Homo sapiens: one gene and its partner. The protein of the gene in region 1 purifies or fractionates together with the protein of each later gene. This does not show direct contact. Each region holds a gene or a part of one and is shown in the gene's direction. Other genes may lie near its edges.

Region 1 (3,656 bases):
TAGACATCCTTATCTTATTCCTAATCTTAGAAAGAAAGTATTTAGTCTTTCACCATTATGTATGATGTTAACTGTGTCTTATTTGTATAGAGTTTACTCAGGCGTATTTTGTTGAGGATTTCTGCATCTTTATTCACAAAAGATATGGTCTGTAGCTTTCTTTTCTTGGGATATTGTTGTTTAGTTTTGGTATCAGGTTAATACTGGTCTAATAGAGTTAGGAAGTGTTTCCTTCTTTTCTAATTTTTGGAAGAGTTTGTGAATGATTCGTATTAATTTTTCTTTGAATAATTGATAGAATTCACTAGAGAAGCCATGTGGGCTAGGTTTTTCTTGGTGAGAAGCTTTTAAATTACCAATTAAATCTCTCCTTATAGGTCTGTTGATTTTGTATTTTTTTGTTGAATCAGTTGTGGTAATTTGTACCTTTTAGTAATTTGTCCATTTCATCTGAAGTATCTAAGTTATTGGCATATAGTTGTTCATAGATTCACCCATAATGCTTTTTATTTTGTAAGATTGGTGATATTGTCACTTCTTTCTTTATTTTAGTTATTTAAATCTTCTCTTTTTTCCTTGGTCAGTCTAAAAGTTTGTCAATTTAGATGATCTTTTCAAAGAACCAGCTTTTGTTTTATTGATTATGTAGTTTTATGTATCTATTTATCAGATATTTATCAAGTACTGCATATACAGTCATGAACAAAACAGACATGTTTCTACTCTTTCAAAACTGTTAGTCTAGTGGGAAAGGTAGACACTAAGTAAATTTATACTTGTCATGGTCATTAATGCTGTGAAAGAAAAGAACAGGGTGCTATGAAAGGGAGGGACAGGAAGAACTGACTTTAGACCAAGGGACCAGGAAAGAGTTCTGGGAAGATGACATTTAAACAGAAAGGAACAGGTGAGAGGGCATTGGGGAGAGAGAGTTAGTATTGGGGTATTTGTATGTGTCAGGGTGGGGAGGTCTGGGGAGAATATTCTAAATGGCAGGAACAGATACATTCAGACCTCAGAGCCCTGGAGCAGGAGCAGGTGAAGAAGGTAAGTTTGGTGAGGTGGGGGGCCATGAGATGCAGGGCTCTGTGGACCATGTTAAGGAATGTGAGTGTCATTTAATCTATTACAGACTTACTACTTTGATTTGTGAAAATTAAATGATACAGACCTGTCTCAAAAACCAACTATAAACTATCCAGAGTTTTCTATGGCACCAAGAATAAAGTCCAAAGTCCTTCCAGTGGCCTAGAAGGCCCTGTAGCCCTGTGATATCTGGCCTTACTAACCTCTGACCTCATCTTGCCATTCTTCAGCCACACTGGTTCAATCAGACTTCCCACATATGCCAGGCTGAGGCCCTTGGCACTTGCCATTTTTTTTGGTGAGCACGCTGTCTTCATAGATCTTTGCCTCTCTGCTCCTTGACATTCAGAGCTCAGCTGAAGTATGTAGTGGTGGTTGCCCAAAGGCTGCTGAAGATTTTAGCTATAGCCTCTGAGGATATCCTCTAATCTCAGAGGGCTGGTGGTATCTTATGGTCTGTTTCAGCAGGGGGTTGTGCTTCTTGGAACCCACCAAGTTCTCCTTTTCTTCCTACGCTGTGTTTCCTCCTCCCACCTCCTTCTTCCCCAATTCCTTCCTCTTGGAACTTACCCTCAGTTCCTGTGCTGGGGACTCTCGTGGCCACTGTGTTTTGCGGGAGCAGAGAACATGGTACTTTTCTTTTTAGCTGTTTTCCCGTCACATACATTCCTCTCTACTTAAATGTTCAAAAGTCAAGTGAAATACTTCAAATGAAATTCCAAGTGAAGATTCTGGTTTTAGGAACTGACTGGGTCAATACAAAGAATTTTTTACTTACCCTGCTCAGACAGAGTAGACCAAATCCTGGGAGGAGAGTTTGCACAGGTGTTTAGTGTCTAGATGCAAGATTATATAAGAGATCATATGCTGACCAGATCAGAGCATAAATCTGTTTTTTAATTAAAAAATAAAGAAATACAGACTTCTCCCAACATTTTGTATTCTGATTGCCAAATGCAGACATGTACATTCCATGTAGAAAAAGTTCCTGGCAGGGGATTTGATATGATTTGGCTCTGTGTCCCCACCCAAATCTCATCTTGAATTGTAATCCCCATGTGTGGAGGGAGAGACCTGAAGGGAGGTGATTGGATCATGGGGGTGGTTTCCCCCATGCTGTTCTCCCGATAGTGAGGGAGTTCTCATGAGATCCAGTGGTTTCAAAAGTGGCAGTTTCCCCTGCACTCTCTCTCTCCCGCCGCCACGTGAAGAATATCCTTGCTTCCCTTCTGCCTTCCACCATGATTGTAAGTTTCCTGAGGCCTCCCCAACAATGCGGAACTGTGAGTCAATTACACCTCTTTTGTTTATAAATTATCCAGTCTCAGGTAGTTATAGCAGTGTGAAAATGGACTAATATAGGATTCTCACCCAGTCAGGGTCATGGATTTCTTTTCTGGAGCAGAAATTTTTCTCCCATCATACATATTTTATGGGAATGAAGAAAGGAGAAGGAACTAGTGTTTTGTCTTTATACTAAAGAAAAAAATGAAAAGAATATTAATTAAAATAATTAGGCAACAAAACTGGGGAGTATAAACACACCATTTTTGATACTGGCAATGAAAACAACCAAGTAAACTGGAAGTGTTAGAAACCCTTTATAAAGGGACACAGTATTAGTTCATAGTGCTGGGATCTATGAAAACACAAATTCCGATAATAAGAAATATCCATTGTGTGTAAGAAATTTCAATATGTATGAGTGAAAGATAGTTTGAGGGTTGTATGTATGTGTGTGTGTGTGTTTTAATACTACAAAAAAATAAGAAAAAAGTACTTCTCTAATTAGGCCAAGCAGGGCTATGCCTATTTGCAGGTGGGGAAGTAAGGATGTGGCTGGGACTGGTTGCAGCGGCTCATGTCTGTAACCCCAGCTCTTTGGGAGTCTGAGGTGAGTGGATAACTTCAGGCCAGGAGTTTGAGACCAGGCTGGCCAATATGGTGAAACCCAGTATCTACTAAAAACAAAAACAAAAATCAGCTGGGTATGGTGGCACATGCCCGTGTCCCAGGTACTCAGGAGGCTGAAGCAGGAGAATCGCTTGAACCCAGGAAGCAGAGGTGGCAGTGAGCTAAGATGGCACCATTGCATTCCAGCCTGGGTGACAGAGCAAGACTCCATCTCAAAAAAAAAAAAAAAAAAAAAAAAAGTGGCCGGGAGCTGAAGAGCAGCTCCAGGAGAGGCTCAGGAGGGCCAGGCACAACCCAGGTTCACCTTGCAAAACTGCTCTGGTTATGTTTCTTGTTTCTTTTTCTTTTCCTTTTTTTTTTTTGAGACAGAGTCTTGCTCTGTCAGCCAGGCTAGAGTGCAGTGGCGCCATCTCAGCTCACTGCAACTTCCACCTCCAGGGTTCAAGCGATTCTTGTGCCTCAGCCTCCCGAGTAGCTGGGATTACAGGTGCCTGCCACCGCACCTGGCTAATTTTTGTATTTTTAGTAGAGACGGGGTTTCACCATCATGGTCAGGCTGGTCTCGAACTCCTGACCTCGTGATCCACCCACCTTGGCCTCCCAAAGTGCTGGGATTACAGGCGTGAACCACTGTGCCTAGCCTGGTTACGTTTCTT
Region 2 (3,656 bases), on another chromosome or scaffold:
ATAGTAGTCTATAACATATTATCTGACTCACTACCTACCACTAAGCCTTGCACATGATAAACATGCAAAATAAATACAAGTGAAAATTTAACTCCTCTATATATTGCTTTTTCCAGTAGTAAGCCATCCTCAGATAGATATTTTTTAAATGTTAAGAATGCTGGTTTGACGAGTTGCTCCTTTGTAGGCATATTCCACAGTTGGGACACCAGATTACATTGCTCCAGAAGTATTCATGCAGACTGGTTACAACAAATTGTGTGACTGGTGGTCTTTGGGAGTGATTATGTATGAAATGCTAATAGGTATGTTTTATCATTCATTTATGTACAAAATATATACATTTCCTTGAGTGCCATTGTTTGAACATATTACAGATATCATTGACTAAAATATTTGAAGTCTTTTAAGCTTAATTCTGATGTTCCCCCAATGTTAAATACATACTGATCAATACCAGTGAGCTCCCCACGGATCCTGTTTCAGGAAGGTGGGTATTTAACCCAAACTCCCACGTATAAAAGTGGTTATCTACATAGCTTTTCAGGTAAAAGGGGAGGCAGTGCTTTCAATCCTTTATTTTATTGACTTTATTAGCAACGTGATTGTAAATTGATGAATGGTGGCATTTTTGACTGTTAAATAGAGCACTCAGGGTTGTTTGGTTTCTTGTCGCACATGTTTGGTGGGTATAAACTTCACTGCTCACAAAGCTGATGAAACATTTTTGATTTATTTGATACATAGGATATCCACCTTTCTGCTCTGAAACACCTCAAGAAACGTACAGAAAAGTGATGAACTGGAAAGAAACTCTGGTATTTCCTCCAGAGGTACCTATATCTGAGAAAGCCAAGGACTTAATTCTCAGGTTAGTGGTTAAATTCCTAGAGGAGTTCATAGTGTCTTAAAACTTCCTAAGAACCTAAAAGACTCATTTCACTTTTGTGGGGGAAGAGGGGATACCACTGATGTATACAGTCAAAGAGATCAATAAAGGTGTTTTTAAAAATGTAAACTCTTAAAAGGAAGTATGCAGAAAAAAACGTAGGAATTAAAAAGAGGGAGGAAGTCTTGTATTGCTTCTGTTACTGATATATATAAAAGCAAAAGGTCACTTCTGTTAGAATGCAATGACCTGATTCCATTAAAGAGAAAAAGGAAAATGTTAATAGCAGATTCCTGTCATGAAAAGTATATATGTAAAATCTTCTAAGCAAAAAATTCCATGTGTTCCTCAACTAATATGAAGTGTTTTGGTACTGCTGTGAATGGCTGGAAGGAATATAAATTGGGACAACTTGTGGGAATAGCCAGTTGGCAGCATATTATTTTTTTAAAATCCCTAAACTATGTATGACCTTTGACCCAGAAGTTCTACTTCTAGGGATTTCGCTTATGCAGATAATCAGATACGTATAAAGATTTAGGTACACTATGATTTTCATGGTATTTAATAGTGAAAATTGAAAACTATTTAAATGTTCAACAGTAGTGGACTGGCTCAATAGTAGACTGTCTATAATACCTCTATATGTAAATTTTAGAAAACAAATTTATTGGCTGGGCACAGCAGCTCATGCCTGGAATCCCAACACTCTGGGAGGCCGAGTTGGGCAGATCACAAGGTCAGGAAATCAAAACCATCCTGGCTAACATGGTGAAACCCCGTCTCTACTAAAAATACAAAAAATTAGCCGGGCGAGGTGGCGGGCGCCTGTAGTCCCAGCTACTTGGGAGGCTGAGGCAGGAGAATGACATGAACCCGGGAGGTGGAGCTTGCAGTGAGCTGAGATCACGCCACTGCACTCCAGCCTGTGTGACAGAGCGAGACTCCGTCTCACAAACAAACGAAAAAAAAATTTATTGAAAAATATTTAATGACTTTGGCAAATTTTCTCAGTATATCAAGTGAAAAAAAGCAGACCTAACATAGTAACTATGGTAGCAACACAGTATTTTTAATATTGTAAAAGATTAGCATATTTACAGTAGTTATCTCTAAACAGTGCGCTTACAGATGATTTTTATTTTCTTCCACATTTCCTACAATAAACATAGTTAACATCAATAAAAGAAAAACATTATATTTCTTTAAAAAAGAAATATTTGAAGTAATGCAGCTAGAATACTTTAGATGTAACTTGTGTATGATAATTTCTCTGTTTCCATGTTGTAGATTTTGTATTGATTCTGAAAACAGAATTGGAAATAGTGGAGTAGAAGAAATAAAAGGTCATCCCTTTTTTGAAGGTGTCGACTGGGAGCACATAAGGTATGTTCCTAGGCTTTGAATGGGAAAGGTCTGAGTAAAAACAAATTTCTAGAGTTGGCAATTAATTTACCTCTGATTCTGCTAGATTAAATACAAAAGTAACATATAATGTCATTAAGTGCAGTGTTTTCTGGATTATGTAAGTGAGTGGGACTATTGTGGCTACAGCTTGATGACTCATTTTAGGCTAACATCCACTTTCAGGGAAGAACATTGGGAAGCTGTTTAAATTCTTATATTCATATTCACAGTGAAGGCTGTTAGCACATGAAACATGTATTTACATTTCACACAGTGACCCCTCATTTTTGTCCTTGCTGTAATATACCACATACTGTCTCCTTAATTAATTTATAATAAGGTACAGTCCCTCTTTAAACGGTGGTTGGGCATTAAATAATACAAGTAACTTTTAAGAATTTGCTTACAGTTGTTAATTGTGAGCATTGGCTTTTTTCAGTTTATGGCCAAACTACCATTGGTAGTTCTGATCTGTTCTCCACACAGCAACAGTTTAGAAGCATAAATCTGGCCATGCCACTTTCCTGTGGCCTTTTGCACTTGGAATACAGTTAAGAAGCCTTCACTGCTTTCTTAGGACTGCAGGATATGGCGATTGCCTCATCTGCAGGAGTTGCGTCTTGGATGGCCTCTCCTACTCCTCTTCCCACCTCTAAGTTTTGCTATTTGCTATCCATCCTGACTGAAATGCCCTCTCCCTGCTGCCTCTACCCCTACCCTGCCTAGCTGGCTCCTTTGCATCTTCCAAGATAGCTTATGTGTCATTTCCTTGGTACAGCTCTTCACTGGTGAACCTGCTGTGTGCTAGGCACTCTGCCTATTATTATTACTTATTTTTTTGAGACAGGGTCTCACTCTGTCGCCCAGGCTGGAGTGCTGTGGCATGATCATGGCTCACCGCAGCCTCGACCTCCAGGCCTCAAATGATCCCCCCACCTCATCCCCGCAAGTAGCTGGAACTATAGGCATGTGCCACCACACCCAGCTAATTTTGTTGATTTTTTTTTTTTTTTTTTTTTTGTAGAGATGGGGTTTCACCATGTTGCCCAATTGCCCAGGCTGGTCTTGAACTCCTGAGCTCAAGCGATCCACCTGCCTCGGCCTCCCAAAGTGCTGGGATTACAGGCGCCTAGCCCACTCTGCCTGTTGTAATAATAGCTAATTTTTAAAAATCATTTATTGTGTCCAGCACTGTTTTAAGTACTTTACTTGCGTTTCTCATCTTATCCTCATATAAGCTCTATAAAATAGGAACTGTTATTATCCCTGTCTTACAAGTGAGGAAACTAAGGCACAGAGAAGTTAAGTAATGTGACTATAGTGCTGCAGCTAGTAATTTTTTTTTTTTTTTTTTTGAGAT

Evidence for each region. The genes of interacting proteins can lie anywhere in the genome.
Region 2: the proteins of NTPCR (region 1) and STK38L purify together in Homo sapiens (pull-down; one large-scale study listed by IntAct). This does not show direct contact.

Annotation. Positions count from the first base shown.
Region 1 is NC_000001.11:232,957,000-232,960,655, forward strand, and holds part of NTPCR (cancer-related nucleoside-triphosphatase), read left to right. Parts: intron 1-3,656. UniProt on the Homo sapiens protein: Has nucleotide phosphatase activity towards ATP, GTP, CTP, TTP and UTP. Hydrolyzes nucleoside diphosphates with lower efficiency.
Region 2 is NC_000012.12:27,317,149-27,320,804, forward strand, and holds part of STK38L (serine/threonine-protein kinase 38-like), read left to right. Parts: intron 1-187; coding exon 188-305; intron 306-747; coding exon 748-871; intron 872-2,179; coding exon 2,180-2,275; intron 2,276-3,656. UniProt on the Homo sapiens protein: Involved in the regulation of structural processes in differentiating and mature neuronal cells.